7 separate regions of the Homo sapiens genome follow, and regions 2, 3, 4, 5, 6 and 7 are each reported to be linked to region 1. The links are microRNA targets in miRTarBase. Many come from high-throughput screens and were not tested one by one. Region 1 holds a microRNA gene; each other region holds the end of a gene's coding sequence.
Evidence for each region. The annotated mature microRNA hsa-miR-6756-5p reads AGGGUGGGGCUGGAGGUGGGGCU and lies in region 1 at 2,450-2,472, shown strand. An mRNA with a match to its seed (bases 2 to 7 or 8) in the 3' UTR can be bound and repressed. Matches are read on the target gene's strand: a 7mer-m8 pairs with bases 2 to 8, a 7mer-A1 pairs with bases 2 to 7 and ends in A, and an 8mer does both.

Region 2: miRTarBase lists BCL7A as a target of hsa-miR-6756-5p. Seed matches in the 3' UTR shown: 8mer at 2,875-2,882 and 7mer-m8 at 2,879-2,885.
Region 3: miRTarBase lists RUSF1 as a target of hsa-miR-6756-5p. Seed matches in the 3' UTR shown: 7mer-m8 at 3,205-3,211, 7mer-m8 at 2,602-2,608 and 7mer-m8 at 2,530-2,536.
Region 4: the mRNA of MARCHF9 is a reported target of hsa-miR-6756-5p. Seed matches in the 3' UTR shown: 7mer-m8 at 1,054-1,060.
Region 5: miRTarBase lists OTUD5 as a target of hsa-miR-6756-5p. Seed matches in the 3' UTR shown: 7mer-m8 at 648-654 and 7mer-m8 at 723-729.
Region 6: the mRNA of ADRM1 is a reported target of hsa-miR-6756-5p. Seed matches in the 3' UTR shown: 8mer at 782-789.
Region 7: miRTarBase lists SNAPIN as a target of hsa-miR-6756-5p. Seed matches in the 3' UTR shown: 7mer-A1 at 2,922-2,928.

What each region holds. Positions count from the first base shown.
Region 1 is chr11:119,311,372-119,315,456 of GRCh38, reverse strand. It overlaps MIR6756 (microRNA 6756), which reads left to right and starts at 2,445; the gene lies at 2,445-2,507. It overlaps MCAM (melanoma cell adhesion molecule), which reads left to right. Exons shown (of 16, transcript NM_006500.3): 2 at 194-318; 3 at 417-624; 4 at 708-778; 5 at 881-968; 6 at 2,508-2,687; 7 at 2,809-2,930; 8 at 3,029-3,191; 9 at 3,287-3,405; 10 at 3,508-3,649; 11 at 3,806-3,927; 12 at 4,036-4,085. RefSeq lists an enhancer at 1-336.
Region 2 is chr12:122,058,683-122,062,767 of GRCh38, forward strand. It overlaps BCL7A (BAF chromatin remodeling complex subunit BCL7A), which reads left to right. Exons shown (of 6, transcript NM_001024808.3): 6 at 410-3,362. The coding sequence ends at 481. Among named protein-coding and RNA genes, the nearest start is that of LINC02985, 2.6 kb to the right of the region's middle.
Region 3 is chr16:31,487,174-31,491,173 of GRCh38, forward strand. RUSF1 (RUS family member 1) reads right to left here. Exons shown (of 13, transcript NM_022744.4): 13 at 2,302-3,759. The coding sequence ends at 3,662. SLC5A2 (solute carrier family 5 member 2) reads left to right here. Exons shown (of 14, transcript NM_003041.4): 6 at 147-227; 7 at 357-586; 8 at 865-1,000; 9 at 1,210-1,317; 10 at 1,449-1,599; 11 at 1,707-1,875; 12 at 1,950-2,165; 13 at 2,931-3,057; 14 at 3,136-3,596. The coding sequence ends at 3,362. Among named protein-coding and RNA genes, the nearest start is that of SLC5A2, 6.1 kb to the left of the region's middle. RefSeq lists a silencer at 558-717 and an enhancer at 1,715-2,374.
Region 4 is chr12:57,758,227-57,762,311 of GRCh38, forward strand. MARCHF9 (membrane associated ring-CH-type finger 9) reads left to right here. Exons shown (of 4, transcript NM_138396.6): 3 at 1-74; 4 at 337-2,185. The coding sequence ends at 671. Among named protein-coding and RNA genes, the nearest start is that of MARCHF9, 5.2 kb to the left of the region's middle. RefSeq lists enhancers at 1,054-1,113, 1,234-1,283.
Region 5 is chrX:48,919,588-48,923,672 of GRCh38, reverse strand. OTUD5 (OTU deubiquitinase 5) reads left to right here. Exons shown (of 9, transcript NM_001136157.2): 8 at 1-40; 9 at 378-1,649. The coding sequence ends at 499. Among named protein-coding and RNA genes, the nearest start is that of PIM2, 2.6 kb to the right of the region's middle. RefSeq lists enhancers at 1-170, 1,715-2,599, 3,293-3,352.
Region 6 is chr20:62,308,038-62,312,046 of GRCh38, forward strand. It overlaps ADRM1 (ADRM1 26S proteasome ubiquitin receptor), which reads left to right. Exons shown (of 10, transcript NM_007002.4): 8 at 1-141; 9 at 331-433; 10 at 618-825. The coding sequence ends at 724. It overlaps LAMA5 (laminin subunit alpha 5), which reads right to left. Exons shown (of 80, transcript NM_005560.6): 70 at 3,883-4,009; 71 at 3,577-3,747; 72 at 3,364-3,499; 73 at 3,125-3,270; 74 at 2,865-3,057; 75 at 2,628-2,792; 76 at 2,382-2,535; 77 at 2,141-2,274; 78 at 1,951-2,044; 79 at 1,679-1,798; 80 at 1,028-1,438. The coding sequence ends at 1,299. Among named protein-coding and RNA genes, the nearest start is that of ADRM1, 7.0 kb to the left of the region's middle.
Region 7 is chr1:153,660,593-153,664,677 of GRCh38, reverse strand. SNAPIN (SNAP associated protein) reads right to left here. Exons shown (of 4, transcript NM_012437.6): 4 at 2,826-3,478. The coding sequence ends at 3,377. ILF2 (interleukin enhancer binding factor 2) reads left to right here. Exons shown (of 14, transcript NM_004515.4): 9 at 204-282; 10 at 548-635; 11 at 1,402-1,463; 12 at 1,545-1,659; 13 at 1,883-1,973; 14 at 2,122-2,890. The coding sequence ends at 2,282. Among named protein-coding and RNA genes, the nearest start is that of SNAPIN, 3.9 kb to the right of the region's middle.

The sequences.
Region 1 (4,085 bases):
TGGGATCTCCTGGACGGGGAGAGGGCTGGCCCAGGTGGGGCGCGGGTCGGGGTGGGGGTAGAGCGTTCAGAGGACAGGGCCCTCTGCAGACCCTCTGAGTGGCAGGAAAAACAGCTGCAGCAGCGCTGCGAGGGGAGGGGCGGACAGCAGCCGGAGCTGACACAGCTGCGGGGGCCCCGCCTCCCTCCCCCAGGTGTGCCCGGAGAGGCTGAGCAGCCTGCGCCTGAGCTGGTGGAGGTGGAAGTGGGCAGCACAGCCCTTCTGAAGTGCGGCCTCTCCCAGTCCCAAGGCAACCTCAGCCATGTCGACTGGTTTTCTGTGAGTGCTTGGGCTCCTGCAAGAGCAGCCCGGGGAGGGAGACTCTGCCCCTCTTGTAGCCCAGGACCCTTCTCCTCCTCTGTGTCTCCTCCCATTAGGTCCACAAGGAGAAGCGGACGCTCATCTTCCGTGTGCGCCAGGGCCAGGGCCAGAGCGAACCTGGGGAGTACGAGCAGCGGCTCAGCCTCCAGGACAGAGGGGCTACTCTGGCCCTGACTCAAGTCACCCCCCAAGACGAGCGCATCTTCTTGTGCCAGGGCAAGCGCCCTCGGTCCCAGGAGTACCGCATCCAGCTCCGCGTCTACAGTGCGTGACCCTGTGTCTGCCAGCAGGGTAGTGAGGGTGGTGGGACGTGGCCAGATGTCCCCCTCATTTCTATTTTCTTGTAGAAGCTCCGGAGGAGCCAAACATCCAGGTCAACCCCCTGGGCATCCCTGTGAACAGTAAGGAGCCTGAGGAGGTGAGATGTGTGGCAGGTGGGCTGGGCAGCTGGTGCGCAGCCGCTGAGATGGGGCTTGAAGGGGGCTCGGAGGCAGGGAGACTCACACCCTGTGCTCTTTAGGTCGCTACCTGTGTAGGGAGGAACGGGTACCCCATTCCTCAAGTCATCTGGTACAAGAATGGCCGGCCTCTGAAGGAGGAGAAGAACCGTGAGTAGCCCTTTCTCCCAAAAGCCACCCTTGGGCCAGGTGTGGTAGCTCACACCTGTAATCTCGGTGCTTTGGGAGGCCAAGGCAGGAGGATCTCTGGAGGTGAGGAGTTCAGGACCACCTTGGACAACATAGGGTGACCCTGTCTCTACAGAAAATAAAAAAATTAGCCAGGCATGGTGGTGTGTGCCTGTGGTCCCAGATACTTGGGAGGCTGAGGCAGGAGGATCATATGAGCCCAGGAAATGAAGGCTGCAGTGAGCTAGGATTGCACCACCACACTCCGGCCTGGGTGACAGAGCGAGACCCCATCTCTTAAAAAGAGCTGTCCCTATGGTACTACACAGGAACTGCCTTATATTTTCATTAAGCTTTTAACTTAAAAAAATTATACAAATGGTACTTGAAAATATTTTCATGAGAATTTAAACTGACAAAAAATCTAGAAGTTTCTTCTTGCCTGAGACCCCCCCTCCCAGAAATAATCTCTGCTATCAGGGTGTGTTCTTTCAAGCCTATTTCTATGTATTTGCTCATATATAGAAATATTTCTAGAATGATATAGGCTTCTGTGTTTTATTATCTAAATCAGTCATTCTTAACCAGGGGTGATTTTGTACCCCCTCCTCCTAGGAGATACTTGGCAATGTCTGGAGATATTTTTGGTTGTCACACATAGAGGGGGTGCTACTGCCATCTAGTAGGTAGAGAGACCAAGGATGTTGCTAACATCCTATAGGGCACAGGACAGCCCCCACAATAAAGAATCAACGTGGCCTAAAACATCAGTAGTGCTGGCTGGGCTCACGCCTGTAATCCCAGCACTTTTGGAGGCCAAGGTGGGCGGATCACCTGAGGTCGGGAGTTCAAGACCAGCCTGTCCAACACGGAGAAACCCCATCTCTACTGAAAATACAAAAGTAGCCGGGCGTGGTGGCGCATGTCTGTAATCCCAGCTACTCAGGAGGCTGAGGCAGGAGAATCACTTGAAGCCGGGAGGGAGGTGGAGGTTGCGGTGAGCCGAGATTGTACCACTGCACTCCAGCCTGGGCAACAAGAGTGAAACTCTGTCTGAAAAAAAAAAAAAAAAAATTATCAGTAGTGCTGAGAAACCCTGGTCTAAGTGGTGGTGTATGGTATACATTGTTAGACAATTTCTTTTATACAATGTTTCTGGGTCAGTCTATTTAGATCAACTGATCGTTTTGCTTACTGCCAAGTTTTCCATACTACGCATAGCAGGTAGTCGAGTTCACCATTCCCCATTTAGTGGACATCTAGACGGCTGCTCGTTTTTATCATTGCAGCATTCTTTGCACACATCCTTGGATATGAGCAGACATGAAAATGTTTTTCTAGGGTTGACACTGAGCAGTAAAAGTGCTGGGTTGAAGGGTTTCCAGCTTGCATTTGTACCTGGCCTTCTACAGGGGACAGGGGGCTATTTAGATGGTCCCCTGCCAACCCCAGTGGACAACCCTAGGGTGGGGCTGGAGGTGGGGCTGAGGCTGAGTCTTCCTCCCCTTCCTCCCTGCCCAGGGGTCCACATTCAGTCGTCCCAGACTGTGGAGTCGAGTGGTTTGTACACCTTGCAGAGTATTCTGAAGGCACAGCTGGTTAAAGAAGACAAAGATGCCCAGTTTTACTGTGAGCTCAACTACCGGCTGCCCAGTGGGAACCACATGAAGGAGTCCAGGGAAGTCACCGTCCCTGTTTTCTGTGAGTACTAACCTGACTCTCTGCTTACTGGGGCTGGGGCTGCTGGAAACTCCTGCTGGCTCCCCCTTATCCAGCCCAGGGTTGACTCATGGGCCAAGAGCTACCCCCTTTGCCTATGCAGACCCGACAGAAAAAGTGTGGCTGGAAGTGGAGCCCGTGGGAATGCTGAAGGAAGGGGACCGCGTGGAAATCAGGTGTTTGGCTGATGGCAACCCTCCACCACACTTCAGCATCAGCAAGCAGGTGTGGGGGCTTTGTGCTGGGTGCAGGTGGGGATGCAAGCAGAGACCCAGGTGGAGTGGCGGGAGGTGCACTCTGCTCACCTCCCCAATCCTCCCTAGAACCCCAGCACCAGGGAGGCAGAGGAAGAGACAACCAACGACAACGGGGTCCTGGTGCTGGAGCCTGCCCGGAAGGAACACAGTGGGCGCTATGAATGTCAGGGCCTGGACTTGGACACCATGATATCGCTGCTGAGTGAACCACAGGAACTACTGGTGAACTGTGAGGGGCTGGGGACCCAGGACAGGGGGACCAGGCTGGGGCAATAGGGAACTGGCCCCACCCTGCCCTGGGTGACATGATTGCTGTACCCCCAGATGTGTCTGACGTCCGAGTGAGTCCCGCAGCCCCTGAGAGACAGGAAGGCAGCAGCCTCACCCTGACCTGTGAGGCAGAGAGTAGCCAGGACCTCGAGTTCCAGTGGCTGAGAGAAGAGGTACCCAGGCGGGTCTGGGGCAAGGGGCTGATGGGGTGGGTGGGGCTGGCGGTGACAAGAATGTGCTCTTTCCCAGACCCTCTGACCCATCTCTCATCCCAGACAGGCCAGGTGCTGGAAAGGGGGCCTGTGCTTCAGTTGCATGACCTGAAACGGGAGGCAGGAGGCGGCTATCGCTGCGTGGCGTCTGTGCCCAGCATACCCGGCCTGAACCGCACACAGCTGGTCAACGTGGCCATTTTTGGTGAGGCCCTCCCTCTGGGTAGAGACCAGGTCACCCCAAGTGGGGTGGTTTTTAAGCTCTTTGACAAAAAGCCACCTGCTGCCCTGGGGAGCTCTGGTGCGGAGGGGGAGGCAGGCTAGCTGGGCTTGCCACCTCACCTCTCCCTACCTCCCCAAGGCCCCCCTTGGATGGCATTCAAGGAGAGGAAGGTGTGGGTGAAAGAGAATATGGTGTTGAATCTGTCTTGTGAAGCGTCAGGGCACCCCCGGCCCACCATCTCCTGGAACGTCAACGGCACGGTGAGCGGGTGTCTCATCTGCCACACTCTCCTAATCCCTGCCTGCGCTTTGTGGCCAGGACCAGAGATCCTCCCCATCCCCTGAGCTGCCTCCTTCCTTTCCTCGCAGGCAAGTGAACAAGACCAAGATCCACAGCGAGTCCTGAGCACCCTGAATGT
Region 2 (4,085 bases), not on the chromosome of region 1:
GGTGAACTTGAAACAATAATCACAAGTAATCACCCTAGCAATGAATCATAGATGGGAAGATTGATAACAGCAACTTCTGGTCCAGTCTGAATGAGTGGGGAGAGCCTAGGGTCCAAGGCAGCAGTGTAGGAAATGCTCCCGAGTTACCAGCCATTGGCATGTGATAGGGTCAGGCAGGGGCCAGGGGACACCGCGCTCCATAGCTCCAGGAAGAGTTTGGGTGTGAGGGTCTCCATAGGTCCTCAAACTCTCTGGAGTCCACGCTTGGGCCTCGGGTCTGGAACTGCTGGTCTGAACCACAAAGCCGCCCCCGCTCGGTTCCTTCCTTGGCTGACCTTCGGCCTCACGCCTGGCCTAACTTGCTCTCCTGGCCCATTAACCTGTGTTCCCCTTTTCTCCTCTCCCCAAGGATTTGGAAGGAGTGCCACCCTCTAAAAAGATGAAACTGGAGGCCTCTCAACAAAACTCCGAAGAGATGTAGACGATGCTTTAAAGCCTCCGATCCATGTTCCATGGAAGGTACATCAGCAATTAATTCTAGAGCAACTTTGCCCCAGCGATTCCTCTTGGGTGCGAACAGAACTACTAACGTTTCAAGTTTACCAAGTGCAAATCCAAGAAGACCCAGAACGGCGTCACTTCTCAGACACTGAAGAACTCTGCTGTGAAGCAAAACACTCAAACCTTTAAGGGACTGTCCTTGGGGAGGCAGGCGGGGCTGACAGCTCAGGAGTGTCTGCACACTGTCTCGGAAGCCAGGATTCCATTTGTGTTGCTGCTGTATTTTCCCCCCACTTCTCTATGTAACGATATAAGCTATCGGAGGGTGGTACCGATCAGGAACGCTTTTTGGCGGGGCTTTCCACTGTTCAACCGATTCCTTCCGCTTTCTTTTTTTGTGCCTTGTGCCCTTGAGGTGACCTCTGGCATGTATCCTGGTGGTTCTTACATCCCCCTCTGCAAAGTGCCCTCTTGGTTTGGTTCGGGCGGCGGCTGCCACCCTACTCACCGCTCTCCTCCCTGCCCCAGGACTTCATCGGAGCAGGCAGGGTGGAGCGAAGGAGCTCCTTAGCCCACCTGGTTTGCAGGTGCAGGGGGACCTTAGGCACGCCCCAAGCACCAGGCACCAGGGCCCAAGGACGCGCAGGTGTTGGGGCACAGTCCCCAAGGGCTCGGCCCCTTGGATCAGGCTGGGCACTCGCTGTGCTCTCCCCTCCTTGGGGCGTTTAGGACTGGGCGTCTCCAAGCCCACCATGGCCCAGATGGACGTGCAAAGCCCTTGGAATTTTCTGGCACTTCCTCTCTATTGCCCCCACCACCACCACCCCCATCACTGCTTTCTCCCAGACCTCCGAATACGAAATGGCTTCTCTGGCTGACTGCAAGGCTGTCTCCTTAAGGCACTGAGTGGGCCGGGGAGGCTGGGAGCCGGCGGCAGGATTAGCTGGTGCTGAACTTTCTCTCATAGGACGTCGCTTGGATTTCAAATCCACGGTCACCTGCTGCCCTTTGCCTCCCCCGACGCCCCAGCCTGTGCCCCGGAGAGGCAGGATCGCAGTGGTCAGAATCCACGTGCTTTCCTATTCTCAGGCTGTTCTGACTCTGAGCCAACAGCTGGACCGTGTCTCATCCCCAGAACATGCCGTCTGTCCCCACCGGGGAGTGGGCCTTGATGGCCGGGCCTCGAAGGCCACAAACAAGGCGTCGAGGAATTGGAAAGATTTGCACACCCTCCAGAAAGGAGAGACGCAATCTCCCCTCCCTCCCATCCCCCACCTTCGCTGGAACAGCTTCCTCTCACTGAACGGAGACGCCCCCTTGGACGAACTGCCTAATCGTTTGGTTCTGAGGCCTGGTTTGCTCTTAATTAATATATGAACTCCTCAGACCTTAAACCTTTTCCTAAGCTTTCTTTACTGCACTGGAGTTCTGACTCCCTTTGAGTTGTGTGTTACTGGGGGTGGGGTGGGGTCATGGGTTTTGTTGTTTTTGGGGGCTAATTGGTGCATATTCAGGTACCACCTTTGACGTGTGGCTCTTTCTCCTGACCATCATGGGAAGTGTCTGCTGGATTCCATTTTCTAAGAGTTTCTGAGGGTGAGGCTCTTATTTTTTTTTTTAAGGGATCCTGTCTATTTCCTGCACTTCGAGAAGAATCAAAATGTTCCTGAATTTCAAATACCTCATGCAAAATGTCTCCTGAAATAAGGGAAAAAAAAAAAACCACAACTTTGAAAATCTTAATGTTGAAGTTAGCAATGCCGAAAGGTTTCTGTCTTAAAAAAAAAAATCCTTGTACTTATCAATTTTGCCCCTTAGGCAGTCAGTTTTGTTGAGAACTGTGTCCTGCATCCTGGCGCAGAACCTACCTGATGCGGTTCCTCTCCACGCATCTCGAGGCGGCGTTACCTCCAGATTCCGTAGAGTTAGAGTCACATTTTTCTTTGCAGCGAAACTCCATCTTGGTGAGAGATGAATTTGGATATTTATTTCCTTCTCTGTTTTTGGGAAACGAGAGGCTACAACCAAGACAGCTGAAGGAGAATGAAACACACACATCCACAGAAACAGAGAGGCGTAGGTGGCCCTGCCGTTGACCGCAGCCTCTCTGGACAGGCAAGGGGAGTTGGCGCAGGTGAGGACTCAGACGACGTCCACCGTCCCAAGGCTGTCACTAGTATTTCTCTGAAGTGCCTGAAGGTAGGAATGGGCCGGCGATTGGGACCAGCTGGGCCCCACCACGGCCACGCCAGGCAAAGCGCCAGCAGCCCTGCACTCCACGCTGGCCAAGAAGGCCTTCCACGCAGAATGACAAGACTGCAAAAATCCGATGTGCTTCCTTCCCTGGCGCAGTCGCTCCTCGAGCCGCTGCCCCCCACCCACCCTGCACCCCTCGCCCTCCCCCCACCACAGAATCTAAGACCTTTCAGCTTCGAGCCAGGGGGCGGGGGATCCCGAGCAAAAGCCTTCCGTGGACATCAGGCCCCGTGGCCTCAAGGGCTCCCAGGGCAAACCTAATTCCCCCCAAAACGTGAAGTCGGGGAAGCTGCGGCTACACATTCCACAAAGTGCTGGCACTTACACCCACAACCCGGAAGGCTGTGGACCGATTCCTCTAGGGTGGTGACCTCCCATTAGCAAACGGTGTCATGGTTTGGAATGTTCATTATCGCCAAGAACCTGGTTAGAGGCATAAAGACCTTTTTTCACCGTTACCTAATTTTTTCCCCTTTCAAGAATTTTTTTTTTTTTTGGTGTGTTGTACAGCAGTATAATTTTTCACTTATTTATTCCATCAGTAGATATGGTTTGTACAATGTACAATTGTTTCATTTCAGAAAATAAAAATTTCAAATCATGAATACCTTGTGGTTTTGTCTCATTTTAAGTAAGGTCAGATCGATGGTGACGGTGTCCCTCTCCAGCTGCTCCGGCCTCTCTTGCTTGGCCGTGTGGCCCTGATTCTACAAGACACACAAGTTCCTTGCACACAGGAGCTGTTGCCTTCCATAGTCATAAGAGCTGCCATTATTAAGCACCAGCTGGATGCCAGGCAAGCCACTAGTTGCTCCTTTCTGTGGGCAGGTATTGTTGGCCACCTTGTGCAGGTGAGAAAACAGCAGGACAGTCCCCTGCAGGGCTCTCATGCCGGGTCAGGCCCCCAGGTTGAAAGCCACACCTGAGGCCAGGCGTGGTGGCTCATGCTTGTAATCCCAGCACTTTGGGAGGCCGAGAAGGGCGATCACCTGAGGTCAGGAGTTCGAGACCAGCCTGGGCAACATGGCGAAACCCCGTGTCTACTAAAAATAGAAAAATTAGCCAGGTGTGGTGGCACACACCTTTAATCCCAACTAGTTGGGAGGCCAAGGCAGGAGAATGGCTTGAACCTGGGAGGCAGAGGTTGCAGTGAGCTGAGATCACGCCACTGCACTCCAGCCTGGGTGCAACAGAGTGAGATTCTGTCTCAAAAAAAAAAAAGCCACACCTGATCCGCCTACCCCGAGACCTGGGTTCCAGCAGGGACATGTTTTCAGCTTCCCTGTCTCTGAGGGGACTCTGGATTGTGGTAGGGACTCAGGGGCGTT
Region 3 (4,000 bases), not on the chromosome of region 1:
TGCATGAGCCCCGAGAACAGGCTATCGTTTTGAAATTTATTCTCCAGGAAGGGGAACTCTTTCAAATTCCCACAAAGACGCCTTATTGCTAAGGCCAGCCTGTAACATAAACAGCTGGGCTGTCCCCTGACCCCGGCCTGTTGCAGGAGGGCTGGCCGCGCTGATGTACACGGACACGGTACAGACCTTCGTCATTCTGGGGGGCGCCTGCATCCTCATGGGTTACGGTAGGGGCTCGCCTACCAGGGAGGGGCGCGGAGGGCATGGTCGCGGAGCTCTCGGCCTGCGCGCGGGGCCGTTGCGCGTCTCCGGTCTGAGGGTCCTAAGGAGGGTCCCCTGACGGCCTTGCCCGGCAGCCTTCCACGAGGTGGGCGGGTATTCGGGTCTCTTCGACAAATACCTGGGAGCAGCGACTTCGCTGACGGTGTCCGAGGATCCAGCCGTGGGAAACATCTCCAGCTTCTGCTATCGACCCCGGCCCGACTCCTACCACCTGCTCCGGCACCCCGTGACCGGGGATCTGCCGTGGCCCGCGCTGCTCCTCGGACTCACAATCGTCTCGGGCTGGTACTGGTGCAGCGACCAGGTGCGGGTATAGGGCTGCGCCTGCAGTGAGGCCGGGGCGGAGCCGAGACGGGCGGAGCCTGAGTCCCTCCCCGCCTTCCCCACAACGGTCTAAGGCGCAGTCTGAGGGGCGGGAACCCCTCGGGTTGGTGCTAAACCAGACAGAAGGCTCCATCTACTCCAAGCGTGCAGCTGAACTTGGGGCACTCACGAGCCAGAGGCGGGGCACAGAGCGGAACGGGGCGCGGGGCGGGGCCGAGGGGAGGCCCGCAAGCGGGCAGCTGAACGCCCCTCCCGTAGGTCATCGTGCAGCGCTGCCTGGCCGGGAAGAGCCTGACCCACATCAAGGCGGGCTGCATCCTGTGTGGGTACCTGAAGCTGACGCCCATGTTTCTCATGGTCATGCCAGGCATGATCAGCCGCATTCTGTACCCAGGTAACATCCCTGCCCCGCCCCTTTCCTGTGCCAGCAACCGGGCGCCCGTCGCCCAGTTCCGTCACCCTCCTAAGACTCGGCAGTTTGGGCCCGGAGTCCCGCCTCCCTCCGGGGGTCGCACGCCTCCTCTGCTAGGATTCCCAGTCCCCACCTCCTGGGATTCCCAGACCAGGCCCCGTCCTAACGGCGCGGTGGCCTCTCTCTGGCAGACGAGGTGGCGTGCGTGGTGCCTGAGGTGTGCAGGCGCGTGTGCGGCACGGAGGTGGGCTGCTCCAACATCGCCTACCCGCGGCTCGTCGTGAAGCTCATGCCCAACGGTAAGGGCAGCCCCGGGCCACAGGCGCAAGCTCGCTGCGGAGCCCGCTGCTGGGAGGGGTCGTCCCTCGCGCAGCTGCAGCCGCCCTGGACCCCCAGTGGCCCCAGCCTCACGGCTGCCGTCGGCCCGCAGGTCTGCGCGGACTCATGCTGGCGGTCATGCTGGCCGCGCTCATGTCCTCGCTGGCCTCCATCTTCAACAGCAGCAGCACGCTCTTCACCATGGACATCTACACGCGCCTGCGGCCACGCGCCGGCGACCGCGAGCTGCTGCTGGTGGGACGGTGCGGCCTGGGCTCCCCTCCTCCCCAACGGATCAGCCCGGGGCGGGGGCTTGCGCACCTGCAGGGGAGCCCAGGGTCCGGGTTCGATCCGACGGCCTCCGCCGCAGGCTCTGGGTGGTGTTCATCGTGGTAGTGTCGGTGGCCTGGCTTCCCGTGGTGCAGGCGGCACAGGGCGGGCAGCTCTTCGATTACATCCAGGCAGTCTCTAGCTACCTGGCACCGCCCGTGTCCGCCGTCTTCGTGCTGGCGCTCTTCGTGCCGCGCGTTAATGAGCAGGTGAGCGGCACGCGCGTGGTGACGGCAGGGCTGGGCTTGCACATCCTCAGCAGGCTGACCTGTTTCCTTCGCAGGGCGCCTTCTGGGGACTCATCGGGGGCCTGCTGATGGGCCTGGCACGCCTGATTCCCGAGTTCTCCTTCGGCTCGGGCAGCTGTGTGCAGCCCTCGGCGTGCCCAGCTTTCCTCTGCGGCGTGCACTACCTCTACTTCGCCATTGTGCTGTTCTTCTGCTCTGGCCTCCTCACCCTCACGGTCTCCCTGTGCACCGCGCCCATCCCCAGAAAGCACGTGAGTGGCCAGGTGCCCCAGGCAAGCACTGTGGGACACAGCACCTACCCTCTGCTTCCTGGAGTGCCCAGCTGGGAGGACCTGAATTTCTCGACTGAGGGTTGGGAATGGGCTGGGGGTCCAGCTGCAGTTGCAATTGCCGAGCAAGAATTTTTATTTAAATACATTTATTTGAACCGGCCTGGGGGAGGCTTGATGTTGATGGGTTGGTGATTAAAGCCTCCCAAAGCCAATCCTTGGCATGGCCTTTGGGACTCAAAACACAGGATCTGACTGGTGGGCACAATACCATCTTGAACGCCCACAAAAAGGTTTGGTTTTGTTGCCAAAGGGCAGGTGGCTCCAGGCAGGGCTGATGGTGGCAGGGTGGGGTGAGGACAGGACAAGAGATCTGGGTGTGGAAGGATGGCCGGGTTTCTGCAGCAGCAGGAGGAAAGGGTGGGAGCACACAGGCACAGAACACTGTGAGCAGGACTGCCAGGCCAGTGTCACAAGCGCTACCATCTGGGTGTAGACAGACCTGAGCTGACAAAGCTGGGGGAGCAAGGCCAACGGCTTTAAACACAAGCTCAGGGGCTTGGGGTTTATCCCGAGGGCACAGGGCAGCCATGTAGGGTGGAGTTGGCATGAGTTAAGCCTGGGCTGGGTGTGTAGACTGGACAGAGGTGGGTAGGGCAGGCAGTGACGAGCTGGTGTGCAAGAGACTTTAGGGCCAGGCATGGGGGGACAGAACTCCCACCTCGTTCGTGCTCCCACCCTCCCCAGCTCCACCGCCTGGTCTTCAGTCTCCGGCATAGCAAGGAGGAACGGGAGGACCTGGATGCTGATGAGCAGCAAGGCTCCTCACTCCCTGTACAGAATGGGTGCCCAGAGAGTGCCATGGAGATGAATGGTAGGGCACCATGCTGGGAGGTGGGGCTGGAGGAGCTGAGTTCCCGCAAACTAACTGCAGGGCCTCAATTTCCCTCAGAGCCCCAGGCCCCGGCACCAAGCCTCTTCCGCCAGTGCCTGCTCTGGTTTTGTGGAATGAGCAGAGGTGGGGTGGGCAGTCCTCCGCCCCTTACCCAGGAGGAGGCAGCGGCAGCAGCCAGGCGGCTGGAGGACATCAGCGAGGACCCGAGCTGGGCCCGTGTGGTCAACCTCAATGCCCTGCTCATGATGGCAGTGGCCGTGTTCCTCTGGGGCTTCTATGCCTAAGACCAACTGCGTTGGACACCATAAGCCACAGCCTCACAGGAAGTGGGGGTGAGGAGCCTGCGGTGCTCCCCAGAAAAGGGGAAGGGGCAGTGGGGTGAGAAGGTCCTGGCTCCCCTTCTCCCGGCCTTCCTCTGCCTGGGGCCCACTGCATCTGATTGGCAGTCACTTCCCATGAGGGCCTGGCCCACCCGCTGCAGTTGCCCTAAGGAAAAATAAAGCTGCCTTTCCCCTGTCCTGCTGTGGCCAAAGTGTCCTTGCTCCAGGTTCCTGCCCTGGGCTTGGGCCTCCGTCTGGGCTGCTCACAAGACCTTCTTTTCGGGAGACAGAAGCCATGTGGCCCTCCACTCATCCACCTCTAGCTGGTGCTTCTCGGTCTTCCAGCCGGCATCCTGCAGTCCTGGGGAGAGATCATGGGGTGCTGCCGGGAATGCTGGGGACAAGGGTAAGGAGAGGCACAGGCTGGGTGCAGGCTTTGTGCACTACTGGGGCTCCCACTGCCTCTGCTGGGTGAGTATGGCATAAAATGAGGCTGAAACCACACCTGGCTGCAGCAAGAATTCGTTGAAATGGCACACAGAAGAGCGCTGGGATGGAACAGGCGCCAGACAAAACGTCCTCATCAGCCAATGTGAGGGCCT
Region 4 (4,085 bases), not on the chromosome of region 1:
CAAGTGGCAACGACAGGATCTGCTCTTTCAGATCTGCTACGGCATGTATGGCTTCATGGATGTCGTCTGCATAGGTGAGGGCACCTCTCTCTCCTTTACCTGCTCTGTATCTTCCTCTTACACACCTAACTCCCCTGCCCATCCCCTCAGTTTCCTGGCTTTATTTTCTGCCACTGTAGCCTTTAGTGCTATCCTGGTGCCCCCTCAACCCACTTCCCTGCTTCTCCAGGGCCCTTTGCAACTGTATCTTCTCACTCTGAAGAAATGCTTGCTTAAGTACCTCTGGCCTAGATCTAGGCCACAGTTAACCCTGGATTTCTTATTCCTATTGCTCAGGCCTCATCATCCATGAAGGCTCCTCTGTCTACCGCATCTTCAAGCGCTGGCAGGCAGTGAACCAGCAGTGGAAGGTCCTAAATTATGACAAGACCAAGGACATAGGAGGAGATGCAGGGGGAGGGACGGCAGGGAAGTCAGGCCCCAGGAACTCACGGACGGGCCCCACCTCTGGGGCCACGAGCCGCCCCCCAGCTGCCCAGCGCATGCGGACGCTCTTGCCTCAGCGCTGCGGTTATACAATCTTGCACCTCCTTGGGCAGCTGCGGCCACCAGATGCCCGTTCCAGCTCCCATTCTGGCCGAGAGGTTGTCATGAGGGTCACTACAGTCTGAACTGGACTCCAGGAGCAGGGATCTTGAGTCAATGCATCAGTCAGAGAAGAACTCTCATGGCTGCTGGAGGTACCAGCTGGACAAGGTGTTTGGGGCATGCTGCCCCCGTCACCGAGGATCTGTGTGGGTAGCCTCAAGCTGGAGACATTGTCTGGCCTCACTGCCCACTGGGTAGAGACACCTGGATGACATTTCAGTACCCGCTGGCAGCTCCTCCCACTCATCCAGAGACGGCCGGTGGGCAGGCGGGGAGAGCAGCTTTCCTTCCCTGGAGAGAACCGTCTTTACCTCAGCTCCTAGGGCCTCCAGCCCCCCAGCTCCACCACGGTGACTTGGTGAAGGGGGACCAATGCCAGAAGAAAGGGGCTGTAGACCCCTATTCCCCACCCCATGGCCACAGGGCATCTGGCAATAAGACTAGTATACATTGACCTCCCGTTCCCTGCATGAGGGCGGGGAGTTCCCCCTGCTCCATCCCCCATTGCATGGGGGAAGGGCATAAAGAATCATTTATATGCACGTGGAGACTCCTTTCTCATCTGGGGCTTTTCTGGAGGGTTGGGAGATGTGGGGAGGTTTCTCTGCACAGGTTGCAAATCCCAAATGCAGCAGTGGGTTCTGAGTTGTAGGTGTGACTCCCACTTGCTGGTGAATAATTCATGTTGGCTGCTAGGTGGCAGCACTCCGAGGTATCTAAAGGGTAGACCTGGACCTGCCACCTATGAGTTGTGTGATATAGAAAAAAATCTCTTAGCTCTGGTTTTCCTGTCTACTTCATAGGGTTGGAATAAGGATAAATGAGGGACAGGTTGGATGCCGTTGCAGAGAAAATCAGCAATGACATAAAGAGATTTCTAGAATAGTTGATGGTCCATTTATTTCAAATAGTAGCTGGTGTAACAAATTCTAAAATGTGTTTTTCATCTGGAGTTGCACAGAATCATGGAATTTTGTGTTGAGTGACATAATAGGTATGGAAATATGAGGGGAAATAGACATTGCAAATGTGAAGCATGGTGGTTATTTGTTAAGAATGAGAACTCCTCTGACTCTAAATATTTGGGCCTGTGGGCTGGGGAAGGCTGGAGCCATCTGCCTTGTTCTGGAGATCATCTGGGTTCTATCAGTCCTTCTCAAGTACTGTGCTCACCCAGAAAAGCAGTGTGAAGTGAATTTGGACTCATTTGGAGTGAGATGGAGGGAATCCCCCCACTCAGTGTTATGAGTCTCCAACCCCAGTTTAAGCTATTTCCATGGCAGTTTAGGGTCACAGGTTTGATCCCGGTGTGCCCAGCCAGTGGTATTAATGGATGGCATTATGTTTGGAGGCAGCAGCATAGAGGACTGTTGTTTATAGAGAAAAGATTTGGGAAGGACTGTTTACAATGTGGGTCAGCCTGAAGCCTGGGCACTTTCTTCTGTGACCTTGGGGTTGTGTATTATATGAATGATGCTGTTTTTAAGTAAACCATTCAACAGCAATTAAATAATTCCTTCATTCACGGCTAAAGTCAGATCTGGAGGCCTTTCTTATTATTGATCCTTCTATCAGGGAAGGTTCTGCTTTGCCTCCTTCCTCCCTGGGGATGTTTTGGAGAAAATGCTTCCCTTGCAAAGGCCCACACACATCCTTGCCCAGGAAACCTTGTCCCCTCCCCTCTCCCAAAGGGGGTCTTGGTTGCTGTCCATGGTGCTGGCATCCAGACCAGCCTTGGGATGTAGGAACAAAAGCTGGACTGCGGTTCAAGTAATTTCAAAGTGTGGAAGTATATAACTTCCAATTTTTGAGGGAGTAGAGTGGATAGGGAACTGAGACTGAACCCTCCGTCTGCTCAGTAGGAAACTGTTTCCCCAGAGAGAGAACCCTCTATATCCCCCATCTTGGGAGACAGAAAGGCCAGACTTTACTGATTTGCCATTCTCAGAAGAGCTGGTGGGGACCAAATGGGGGATTGCAAATCAGAGTGACTACTAATATCTATACCAGCAGATAGGGCTCAGGTAGATAGGACACATGTGGAGCTTCCTGTGCCAAGCCTGAGCTGTCCTCTGTGATGGCTCTGCAGGGAAGGTTAGACATACCAAAGAAAATAGACATACTCACACACAAACACACTGTATCCATTTACACTCTGGGTCCTAAAATGAGGCCAAGTGGGACACTTTCCCCTCTCCTTCAGCACTAATGGAAGTCTTGGTATGGGAGTTGGGGCCAGCAATCAGTATGGTCTCCTCTTCTTCCTTTTTCCAACTTAAAAAGATCATTGTCCAGGAAAGGGTCATGGGAACTGCTGCCCTCTTCAAGTGGGCATTCCTACTTGCCCAGTGGAAAATAGGGAGTACGGATGGGCAGAATTCTCATCACTGATTCCAGGGTAAAGGGTCTGACAAGCTGGGCTTTATTCTCCCTCAAAGATCAAATCTGCTGAAAATTTGGTCATTTAGGTTCAAATTGAGTTCAGTGATAGAGGAATAGGGGTGGAGACTGAGTATACAGTAGGGAAGGAGTTGAGAAGGGCAGAAAATGCACAGAAACCTTGATCTTTGTACGAGGCTTTGGGTCTGCCCTGCCCCTCTGTAGATCTTGCATAATTAGATGCCCCTGCAAAAGGCCTGGTGGCTACTGGAGTTTCTGCGGTCAGGGAGCCATGTCTAGGCCAGGAGGCCAAGGTGTGGAGGAGGAAGAAGTGTGAAGTGAAATCTCCATCTACACCCAGCTAATTGGAATAGGGTGAGCGGTAGGGGAAGGGGGGCAAGTCCTGACATGGGAAGGGTAATCTGGGATGCAGAAGGAACTGTGCAGTGTGCTGAGAGATTTATTTGGATGGAAGATGAGTTAATCTGTATACATCACAAGAGGAGAGCTGTGCCCAGCCTCTGGGGGGCCAGAGAATGCTGACTTAGGGAAACAGTCTCCCTCTGCCCACCGCCCTTATCCTGCCTCAGTGCCCCAGGGCTTCTGGCCACCCCCACACTCAGCTTTCATTCTGTCTGTCTGATTCCACTTCTCTGCTTGTATCCCTTCCTCTGAAGGAAATTATCTTGGAACAACTTTTCCAGAGAGGGCAAAGTGACCAATCTAGGACTTCCTTCAATCCTGGCAGTCCAAAAGCACTTTCCTTACCAGAGTCAGCAACCTCTGCCCATGTCTGCAAATCCCTAGCTCCGGGCCCATTTTACAGCTTAGCCCCTGCCGTTACTTTTCACCCCCCACCCCCTTAATCTCTTACAGGAAGCCAGACTAGACTTGGATGTTCCCACTACAGACAGAAACATGTCTGGGTTTGTGTTACAAACTACTCTTCCAGGCGTCCAGACCTCCCATTGTTATGGGGGTCACCCCCAGGACCTGAGAAACCAAGGTGGGAGATGGGAGGGTTAGAGTCTTGCCTCCAGGTCTTGTAGGAAGTGGGA
Region 5 (4,085 bases), not on the chromosome of region 1:
TGCCGGGCCCTCATTCAGCAGATGTCCCCCTCTGCCTTTGGTAAGCCTCCTTTGTCTGGGGGGATGGAGGCTGCTAGGAGCTGGGAGAGACTGGAAGAAGTGGCAAGTCCTGAGAGGGGCTTTCTGGAGCCTCTGGCCATCTCCCCAAGAAAAGAAGGGAGAGGCACTGGAGGGGATTTTTCAGATCCAAGGAATTTGCCCCAGAAGGGTCTGGGGTCTAAGTGGGGTTTCACAGGCCTAGCAGATCCTTCTGTTTTGAGAAAGGAGTGAGAAGGGCCCTATGGGATTTCTCCAGAGCCCCAGATGTCGGCACAGGGTGAGGAGAAGGCAGGCTGAGAGCGCTCCATCATCCTTTTCCTCTTCCTCTCGCCCAGCAGGTCTGAATGACTGGGATGATGATGAGATCCTAGCTTCGGTGCTGGCAGTGTCCCAACAGGAATACCTAGACAGTATGAAGAAAAACAAAGTGCACAGAGACCCGCCCCCAGACAAGAGTTGATGGAGACCCAGGGATTGGACACCATCTCCCAACCCCAGTACTCCTGCTCTCCGGTGCCACCTCACCTTCTTTGGCTTCTTCCCTCTTGCCTCCTTCTGTTCTTTCTGCTCTCCCCTCTTTTCCCTCCTCCTCACTTCCCTCTGGCTAGCCCACCCCTGCACTCTCTCTCATTGCCGCTGCCACTATCACCTGTCTCTCTGCCAGCTGATGTGCCCTGTTGCCCCCCACCCCATCCCGCACAGAACCATCCCTGCATTCCACAGGGGACTCGGGCAAGGGTGCCGAAGATAGACAAGAGGCACACAGAGACAGACCAACTGGCAGCCAGGCAGCCCCAGAGGAGAGAGACATTCAGACAGAGGAAAGTCTCCCTGCCCCTCATTCCTTCCAAGATGAGAAAAACTTGCCGCCACCCCCCGACACTGATGCCAGGGAGGTGGGAGGAAGAAGTGGGAAATTTCCCTTCCCAGTACCCCCAAGAACGTCTGAGCCTTCAATGTTGAATTTTTTCTTTATTAAAATTACTTTTATCTTATAAAATCAACTAATCAAAAATGATATAGACGACAGCACTGGCTCTGTGAAGGTGGCATCTTTCTGGGCAGGCAGGCCATGGGGCATGGAGGAGGGTGCAAAGATATGGGTTGCTGTCTTCTGGCCTCCAGCTGCATGGAGGCCGGCCCAGGGTCTAGGGTGTGCACTGGGCAAGGGCAGGGCGGCAGGTGTCAGGCCGGCTTGGACAATGAAACCCTGACCTTGCTGCATTCCTTTTGCTTCCACCACCACTAGCTTCTTTGGAATCTTGGGGTGGGGGTCATCTTTGGGGATTATGGCTGCCACCCGGGATTTGAGTGTAGGGAGTGTGGGAGCAGCCTTGGCAGATGGGGCACCCGTGCCCTGCAGGTGTTGACAAGATCCGCCATCTGTAATGTCCTTGGCACAATAAAACCAAATGTCAGTTTCCCTGAGCGACTCTGTTCTGTGTGGGGCAGGGGTTGGGCGGGCCTCTGGGCAGAGGATGCAATGGCACGGACCTTGGCTTGACCTCAGAGGTGTGAATGCTCTCCAGCAGGGTCTGTCTGGGGGCCTGGAGTTTGTATTTGATTTGCTGCTTATTAAACCTCCTTCTGGACCTATTGCCACTGGAAAAGCTGCGTCTTTGCCTGCTGACCCCACCCCTGCCTACCCTATTTCCTGGGGGGGGGGGGGTGATGGTAGCAGAGGACTGTGAGCTTGAACTTCCTGCCTGAATTCCAGCTTCTCCGCCTGCCTCTCACCATGAATGCTGCTCTTTCCTTATCATGATCTGATGAAGAAAAGCCTTGGAAAAGTGCAACTGATACTTTGTAGCAACATGAGTTTAGTGGAAGTAACCAGAGGGGCCTCACCCACTAGGTTTTAGAAGGTGAAGGACGGCTAAACCCTTTTTTGTTCTTGTCCCCCAGTCTGACACCTCTTTGCCTGTCCTCCCTAGGGGTAAATCCAAGGTAAAGAAGGCTGGCTGGCCCCCAGGTTTTCTCAAGCAGCTTTTTCACCATGCCATGATAATGGAGACCCTCTGACAGGATGTGTGTCTGGTTCTGCAGTTGAGGGCATGGCTAGCTGAGTGGCTGTCTGCGGAGTGTGTCTGGAACCCAGTGGCCAAGCATCTATTTGTTGTAGAGTTGCTTTGAAACCTTCCTGGCCCTGGTCAATTGCTTCTCTGTTTCAAGTGTCTCATCTGTACAAGAGGTGATTAGGCTGGGTGCAGTGACTCACACCTATAATCCCAGCACTTTGGAAGGCTGAGGTGGGTGAATCACCTGAGATCAGGAGTTCGAGACCAGCCTGGCCAACATGGAGAAACCCCATCTCTACTAAAAATACAAAAATTAGCCGTTCATGGTTGTACGTGCCTGTAATCCCAGCTACTTGGGTGGCTGAGGCATGAGAATCGCTTGAACCCAGGAGGTGGAGGTTGCAGTGAGCCGAGATTGCGCCACCACACTCCAGCCTGGGTGACAGAGCGAGACTCAGTCTTAAAAAAAAAAAAAAAAAGTGATATCTACTCCCTCATGCTTCTGCTGTGATCATCTAGAGGGAATATGTATGATCAAAGTAACGTACTACCTGGGCACAGTGCTTGGCACATTGAGAGAGCACAAATGTTAGTAGTATTCTTTTTGTAGAAGTTTCTGCACCATTTGGCCCCTGCCAATCTCTCGCCGCTCTGTCCAGTGTTCTTGGCCTTTGCCTGCAATTTGCCCTCCCCTGTCCTGAGCCACCAACCTTCTTTGTCTTTCAAGACAGAGGGTCACCTGCTGAGAAGCCCATTCACATTCTCACTTCTATCTAAAAATCTCCCCAGTAGCTGTACTACAGATAAACTTCATGGCACGGGTTTGATGCCTGACTTATCTGTACATCTCTGATACCAACATCCCCATCAAGGCCTGGCAGGCTTATAGCAAACCACCCCCAATAACGTTGGGTGAACAAAGGAGAGTACATGTGTGCTTTTTTGGTGTTGTCTGTGTGTGTGTGACTGTGGTGAGTCCAAGTCTTCATGTGCAGCTCACAGAGTGTCCCCAGTTGTGTGTGTGATGAAGGGCTTGTTTCCAGGTGTGTCAGATGGTGACTGAGTGTGGGACTCTTATCTCTGACAGTTTGTGTCTAAATCCAAGATGCGTGCATGCCTGCGTGGGTCTGTCTGTGACAGTGCATCTGTGGTTTCTGTCTGATGGGGTGGATGTCCGTTTGTGTTCCTGCAACAGATTCTGGGTAGCTATTTCTGGACAGTTTGTTCCATTGATAAACTGCATGTGTCATGGTGTATGTATGTCTGTGTCTGAACAGGTCTATCCATGTCTGTTTTTGTGACACTGCCACAAAATGTGATTCTATCACATCAGTACATGTCTGCCTTCAGAGCAGTGCATGTGTGTCCCTGGAGCATCTGTGCATCTTCCTGTGACAGACTCTGCGTCTCTCATTTCTGGGACAGTACAAGTCTTGCTGTGACAGTGCATATCTGATGGTGACAGTGTGTTTGTGACAAGTTCTGCCAGTGTGACGGGACATTTCTGTGTCATCACATGGCAAATGTAGGTCTGCGTGAGTGCCTTTCTGTAACAGTGTATCTCTGGGTGTCATTCTAGGACATAACTATTTTTCTGACAGTGTGCTTGCCTGAAAGTGTATGTCAGTCTCTGGCTGCATGTGTATCTAGGTCGTTTCTGTGAATGTGTCTGACAGTATGTGTTTGTGTATATCTTGGCATTCATGTGTCTTTGGAGTGCATTTTTCTTCCTGGGGTGTGGCGCCTTTTCTGGCTGTTTTTCACAAATTTGTGTCTGAGAGTTGCCACTTCTCTAGCAGCCTCTATCATGTCTCTCAGTCCTTGCCTCTCTCAACTCCAAGAGCAGCCCCATGCCACCACCACTCTGGGCTCACCCCCATCCCCCAAGAACCACCCCCTGCTGTTCTAGATTCTAGACTTGCTGACTGGGCCCAGGGCTCAGGGTTAAAAGCTCCAATAAACACTCACCAGGCAATGCTGCCTTTGACCAATGCACACCCGTGGCGTTGATGGTAGGGGTTCCCCCTC
Region 6 (4,009 bases), not on the chromosome of region 1:
CTGACGCCGGAGATAATGGCTCCCATCCTCGCCAACGCGGATGTCCAGGAGCGCCTGCTTCCCTACTTGCCATCTGGGGAGTCGCTGCCGCAGACCGCGGATGAGATCCAGAATACCCTGACCTCGCCCCAGTTCCAGCAGGTAGAGGCCGGGCCCAGGGTGTCCTCCACTGTGTGCTCAGGGAGTGGGCAGGGGGGAGGAGGAGGCCCTGCCCCACCTTCACCATGGCCAGTGCTTCATGTGCCTGACCCGCAGAGCTGGCAGCTGAGCAGTGTGGCTCTGGGGTGCAGCCCGGGTTGGAGCTCAGCCCTCGCCTGGCTCTTCTTGCAGGCCCTGGGCATGTTCAGCGCAGCCTTGGCCTCGGGGCAGCTGGGCCCCCTCATGTGCCAGTTCGGTCTGCCTGCAGAGGCTGTGGAGGCCGCCAACAAGGGCGGTAAGTGGCTGCGCCTGCACCTCCAGGCCAGAGCCAGGGGCAGGGTCCATTCCTGTCCCCCTGGATCTGCAGAAGTGGGGCTGAGGGGGTAAAGGTCACAGCCCTTCTGCCCTTGATCCCATCGCTTTGATCCCCAGTTCTGGGCAAGGGTTAGACACCACCTTGTGTCTTTAACGTGTTCTAGATGTGGAAGCGTTTGCCAAAGCCATGCAGAACAACGCCAAGCCCGAGCAGAAAGAGGGCGACACGAAGGACAAGAAGGACGAAGAGGAGGACATGAGCCTGGACTGAGCCACGCGCCGTCCTCCGAGGAACTGGGCGCTTGCAGTGCGTTGCACACCCTCACCTCCCACCCACTGATTATTAATAAAGTCTTTTCTTTTACCTGCCAATGCTTAGTTTCTTTGCCCAAAGGGAGTTTCGGCTGGACAGGTGCTAGCGTGGGGAGCTGCTGTAGGGTCCCAGAGACAGTTAGTTATTTGACCTAACAACGGAAAACGGTCACCCCAGGAAGAGTTTGGTGCCTCTGTCCAGGCCGGTTCCAGATCTGTCTTGAGACTCACTCTCTCCGTATTTAAGTCAACATTCATTCGGTTACACAGAAGTTACTTTTTAATTTTTAAGGAGGAACCAGTGATGATTGGTGACAAATCTCTCACAATTAAAAATGGGTGGAAGGGCCAAATATAAAAACATTTTGCAGTATTTTATTCTTTCGTTTAAGAAGCTATAACTTAAACCATCTTCAGAAACAAGATCTGTCACCCGTAGAGCTTAGAGTCCAAATAGACACCTATGAGGCGAGCACAAGGGGCGGTGTGAGGCAGCTGCAGGGGCCTGACCAGGGGCCGGGGTTGGCTGTGTCCTAGGCGGCTGGGCAGCCACTGGCCCCCACTGCCCCGTGGACCTCCACAGAGCGAGTCATGGCGACGGGGGACCGGTTCACCGCCAGCCTCCTCATGCAGCCGCAGTAGGCGGGGGGCCAGGGCTGCACGGCCATGGGCTCTGGGGGCACAGGGAAGATGGAAGAAGGCTGGTTGGTGGGCAGCTAGAGACCCACAGGCCCTTCCCAAACGTCAGTGCCCCACCCAGCCCCTGTCTCATTCCACATCATAGGAGGGTGGTAGGGGGGTGGGAGGAGGGTGGGAGGGGGCAGGGGGTGGAGGGGTGGGGGGAGGGTGGTAGGTTACGCAGCACCTAGTCCTGAGGGGCAGCTCCCCCACCCTTGATCAAGGCCGCACTCACCAGGCAGGCCCCCGAGGTACAGAGGGGCTGGGGCACCAGCTGCAGCCGCCAGCAAGGGGCCCACGGTGTGGTTGCTCTGCGCGTCCACCTCCAGCCGGAGCACATTCCCGCTTTTCATCACTGGGAGAAAGGGGGACTCCTGAGGCCAGGTGGTCCTCAGCCCAGCCTCTCTCCAGCCCCAAAAGAAGCCACCCCACCCAGAGTCCCGCCTGGCTCCCGCTCTGCAGAAGGGTGGGGGTGGCAGAGTGCCCTGGCCACAGGAGGGGCCTCACCCGCTAGCCGGTGCCACTGGCCATCACACAGCACTGAGGGGCGGGTCACTGACGTGGAGAACTCCCCTGCTCCGTCATCCGCCCGCAGCAGGACCTGGCGGGGTAGGAAGGGAGGGTCAGGCTATGCCCCCGAGGTCACCAGAATGGGGAGGCAAACCCTGCCCTGGCACGCCACCTCTGCCAGGCTTACTTGCTTCTCGGTCACCTGCAACTGCAAGTAGGGGGGCGTCCGGGCCTGGCCCAAGTGGAAGATCAGTCCGGTGACTGCCAGGGGCCGCACCTCCAGTTCCAGGCCCACATCAGGCAGTGTAGCTCCTGGGAGGTCTGCGGGGAGGGGTTGTGATGGAGAAGAAAGGGGGGGCCCCTCCCCAGAACCTCCTGGAGCCCCCTGCCCTGCCCTGCTGAGGCCTGGGATGCCAGCACCCACAGACCTAAAGTGATAACTCCCCCGCTGCCTGGGAAGAACAGGCCCGCCTCCAGGGGGCCCAAGATGCAGGGTGTGACCCCTGCCATCCGTGTGGGGGCCCCCAGGGGCCTCCCGTGCAGCCTCAGTCTCTTCACACAGCCGCTGAACCCGACGGTCACCTATAGGAGCAGACCGGGCAGGGATCAGGGCCCAGGGCAGCTGAAAGGGAACAGTGGGTGGGGAGTGGGGGCTGGGGCAAGATGGTTCTCACCGGAAGTTTGGAGCTGTGGCTGCTGGCCGGGAGGCCGCCCACAAAGAGGGTGTGGGGCTGGGGGTGCTCTGCCCCCTGGTGCTGCCGGTGCGGCCCCTCCTGGCTCCAGGCCCGGGCCCCGTCCGTCACCAGCAGGATCCGGTTCTTCTCCCAGCGCACGGAGACCTGGGGGCAGGAGATGGGTCAGGGTAGGGCTGCCAGGCCCTGCCCACCACCTTCCTTCTTCTCGGCCCTCACCTTGTGCCAGCGGCCAGGCCGGGAGCGCTGGCGGCTCTGGGCGCGGAGCCGAGTCCCGAGGCCTTCCATCTGTGCAACGAAGTGGCCATTGCTCAGGAAGAGCGCCAGGGAGGGGCTGCCGGGCCTCAGACGGGCAGTGAAGAGGAGGAGGCCTCGGGAGCTTCGCGGGAGGACGTGCATGGAGAGACTGGGCCTGGAAGCGGAGCTGGCGTCAGCCTGCGCGGCCCCTCTCAGCCCACCCCAGCCGGGCCTGGCCTTACCAGTTCCTATGTCGGGCCAGGATGCCCACAAACTCCAGGTGACTGGACAGGGAACCCCCAAACTGGTAGGAGTCTCGGGTGGTCCTGAGGTGTGGGGGCAGCATGCAGGCAGGATGCCGGGCGGGCTGACGGCTGCGGCGGGAGGCCTGGGGGCGTGGATGGTGAATGCAGGGGCCGCCCACACAGGGGCCACCCTTCCAGCCACCCCAGCTCTGCCTGCTCACCCCTGGGGTGCCCACCTTCCGGGCGGTGGCCTGCAGTCCTCTAGGCCCCAGGCCCGGGGTCTGGGCTTGCAGGGCGGGTGCACAGCCCGTGCTCACATTGACGCTGCCCAGGTTCTGCTGCAGATCAAATACGCGCTGTGGGCCCAGGAGCCTGTGCAGGGCGGGCAGGCGGTCAGCAGCTGCGGAAGGCCAGCTGGGACCTTGTCCCCCAGCGCCCACCAGGCTCACCGCTGCACGAAGACGTTGCTGATGCAGCCACTGAAGTTGTAAATGGTGCCAGACTCAGGCAGGCCTCCCAGGAGGAGCCTCGGGGGCCCCTCAGGCTGCGGCTGGAGCTCGGGGGGTGGTCCCCGGTGGGGCTTCATCTGCTGGAGCTGGTCATCGACATACAGCCAGACTCTGGGGGGCGGGAGGCCGGAGGCTCGGTTTTTCCCCACCCTGCCCACCCCCACCTCAGAGGAGACAGAGGTCCAGGCAAGTGCAGGCGGGCGTCCCTCCAGACCTTCACGATGAGGGCCCAGCGGCCAGGCTCACCCCGTGGCATTGCTGTAGAAGGCGACGTAATGGGGGGCACCATCGGCGAAGCCCGCTTGAGTTTTCACTTCAGTCCTCAGGAGCTGTAGGCTCACACGGCCCTGCTGCAGGGACACCTGGCATAGCC
Region 7 (4,085 bases), not on the chromosome of region 1:
TGAGGCAGGAGAATTGCTCGAACCCGGGAGGCGGAGGTTGCAGTGAGCTGAGATCACGCCACTGTACGCAATCCAGCCTGGACAACAGAGCGAGACTCCGTCTATCCTGCCCTCCTTCCAAGTTTTTAAGACTGTAGCAGTGGTAATGAGTAGCTTGTTTAATGAAAATGTTTCATCCTGGCATATCATGCTTGTCTTTTTAGTGGATATCAAAGTATTGCAGAGTGCCTTAGCAGCCATCCGACATGCCCGCTGGTTCGAGGAAAATGCTTCTCAGTCCACGTGAGTCCCTCTCTAACCATTTGGATTAAGATAAACTTTTTAACTGCAGTGAATAGCAGGATACCCCCATACTTCCTCTGACAGAACTATTTTGCCTGTGACCTCGTGTCTGGATTTTTATTTTTACCTTAAGGAAGCAAATTAAGATTTAGAGAAAGCAGAGAATGTATAGTTCTGGAAATAGCATAGTCAGCTTCAATTCTACCTTAGGCATGGAAATACATGATCGTATTGATTTTAATGTTTGGGTCACTATTACTTTCAGAGTTAAAGTTCTCATCAGACTACTGAAGGACTTGAGGATTCGTTTTCCTGGCTTTGAGCCCCTCACACCCTGGATCCTTGACCTACTAGTAAGTAAAGATGGGCAATTGGAGTTCCTCATCATCCTTATTTACTAGTAGTAGTAGTAGTAGTAGTAGTAGTAGTAGTAGTAGTAACTCTGAAATTCACCAGAGTCTGAAATTTGGTGAAGCTTAAAAGAAATTTTATTGGTAGACAAGTAATCCAATAAAAATTCAACATTTACATGACTCAGAGACATTTGTTTAAAAAAAAAGAAAAAATTCAAAGTTTTTTTTTTTTTTTGTATATTCAATGAAATGAGTAGTTACTGAGTTATAGTGTCCCGTTTTCTTCTCATGACTGCTACCATTTAATCATGGTAGTAGAGAGAAATGAGTGAGCAGCCATTTCAGAATTGCTTCTGAACATGAAAATTTTGGCTAGACTTAGACCTTAATGACCAGTTTTCCTCGTGATCATTTAAGGTTTTAGTTTGATGCCTGTAATCCCAGCACTTTGGGAGGCTGAGGCCAGAGGATCACTTGAAGCCAGGAGTTTGAGACCAGCCTGGGCAAAATAGCGAGACTCTGTCTCTACAAGAGAAAAAAAAAAAAATTAGCCAGTTGTAGTGGCTTGAACTTATAGTCCTAGCTTCTCAGGAGGCTGAGTCAGGAGGGTTGCTTGAGCCCAGGAGTTCGCGGTTACAGTGAACTATGATTGCGCCACTGCACTCCAGCCTGGATGACAAAGTGAGGCCCTGTCTCTAAAAAATAAAGTTCTAGTTATCAGAAGTGCCATTTTGATGGCACACCTACTGGATTTATTATTTTTCAGGGCCATTATGCTGTGATGAACAACCCCACCAGACAGCCTTTGGCCCTAAACGTTGCATACAGGTACAGCATGCTTTGGGTTTAGGGTTGGTTGTAAACTATTTTGTGCATTCCTTTAATACCTCATACCTCCCTGTGTTCTAGGCGCTGCTTGCAGATTCTGGCTGCAGGACTGTTCCTGCCAGGTTCAGTGGGTATCACTGACCCCTGTGAGAGTGGCAACTTTAGAGTACACACAGTCATGACCCTAGAACAGCAGGTATTGGGACAGATATGAACTGAGTTGTTTTGCCCCACTCTTTTGAATACTGCTGCTCAGCAGGCAAAGCGGAATATGGTCTTTACGGGTCAGGAATTTGGGGATTCTGAAAGACTTTGGTCCTGAGATTTAAAAAGCTGTCTTAATCTCTGTTTTCAGAAGGGTATTACTCAAATAAGGTCCTTTGATTTTCCTTGCTTACTCTCACTTTGCTTTCCTTCAGGACATGGTCTGCTATACAGCTCAGACTCTCGTCCGAATCCTCTCACATGGTGGCTTTAGGAAGATCCTTGGCCAGGAGGGTGATGCCAGCTGTGAGTGACCACTGTGGGTCAGGGGTTTTGTATTGTAATCTGGTACAGAGAAGCTGTACACTACTTAAATGTCTTTAATATTTCCACAGTGTAAGTAATGACTTTTATGCTGGGCTACTCGTCTAAATCACCTTTTTCTCTTTCCTAGATCTTGCTTCTGAAATATCTACCTGGGATGGAGTGATAGTAACACCTTCAGAAAAGGCTTATGAGAAGCCACCAGAGAAGAAGGAAGGAGAGGAAGAAGAGGAGAATACAGAAGAACCACCTCAAGGAGAGGAAGAAGAAAGCATGGAAACTCAGGAGTGACATTCCCTTCACTCCTTTTCCTACCCAAGGGGGAAGACTGGAGCCTAAGCTGCCTGCTACTGGGCTTTACATGGTGACAGACATTTCCGTGGGATAGGGAAGATAGCAGGAAGAAAAGTAAACTCCATAGAAGTGTCATTCCACTGGGTTTTGATATTGGCTTAGCTGCCAGTCTCCCATTTGTGACCTATGCCATCCATCTATAATGGAGGATACCAACATTTCTTCCTAATATTCTATAATCTCCAACTCCTGAAAACCCCTCTCTCAACTAATACTTTGCTGTTGAAATGTTGTGAAATGTTAAGTGTCTGGAAATTTTTTTTTCTAAGAAAAACTATTAAAGTACTTCCTAGTAGGGCTCTTGGTCTTTCTGGTTGGTGTTTTTTGTTTGTTTGTTTTTTTGCATGTGGCAACCTTTTTTGCTTTTGGCTTTGTGTACTCTTTTGTTGAAAATGATAATTGAGTCATTTAATTATAAATACTCAGATCACAATTTGAAGCTGTCTTTGAATTAAAGGACAAACTCCTGGAACCTTTCCATATACCAGAGTAAACTAGAATATCATTTTAAGTATTTATTGAATAAAATGATTCTATCAACACTGCTACTGTATTCAAGCCAGTGCAATAAAAAAGTGGGTGGACAGAGGTCATTCACTTTGACTTTGCCTGCCCCCTCCAAATCCCCAGTGTAAACAGGAAAATGAGAAGTCACAGGTAGAGGACATGCTGTCCAGGCCCATGTAACCAGGCATGTAACATACAAAGGAAGCCCCTCTGGTTAACTAGTCCTGAAGAAGGTAAGCCTCACGTATGCAGCTTAAAAAAAAAAGTAGAGGCCTCAGCTCATTTGTGAAAGGAAGCAAGAGCCATAATTAATGTAAGTCCTTTGGGAACCTCATTCTGGCTGTGTGTAGGTTTCCTGGGGCCCCTACATAAATGGGTAAGACGAAGTGCTTCAAACAAACTGTACGGCTCCCTTTTTAATGTCTGAAGGTCTATGGGGACTGTCTCCTAGGATCTTTGCATGTCTGTTGAAACAAGGCAGCTGGGGAACAGTACTTGTGCTACTGAGTCCATAGGCTCATCTGTTATTTGCCTGGGGAGCCAGGGGGGTAAATTCCCGAATCCAGCATTGCTCTCCTGCGGGCTGTTTCCTTGGCAACACTGTGGTTTAGCCGTCTCAGTCGTTCCTACAAGACAAGGAAGGTTTGGAATCTTAACCACTGTGAAAGGCTTGAGAGTGTAAGTGAACTAGGTGCTGAAAAATACCGGGCGTGATCTACCTCAAAGTCAGTCTTCAAAAGTATATATAAGAATGTAGGCCGGGCATGGTGGCTCACACTTGTAATCCCAGCACTTTGGGAGGCTGAGGCGGGTGGATTACCTGAGGTCAGGAGTTCAAGACCAGCCTGACCAACATGGTAAAACCCGTCTCTACTAAAAAATACAAAAAAATTAGCTGGGCATGGTGGCGGGTGCTTGTAATCTGAGGCAGGAGAATCGCTTGAAACCGGGAGGTGGAGGTTGCAATGAAATGAGATCGTGCCACTGCACTCTAGCCTGGGTGACAGAGGGAGAACTCCATCTCAAAAAAAAAAAAAAATGTAGGCCAGGCATGGTGCTCATGCCTATCCCAGCACCATTTAGGAGGAAGTGGCAGGAAGATCACTTGAGCCCAGTTTGAGAACAGCCTGGGCACCATAGTGATAGCCTGTCTTTTTTTTTTTTTTTTTTTTTTCCCGAGACGGAGTTTCGCTCTTGTTGCCCAGGCTGAAGTGCAATGGTGCGATCTCAGCT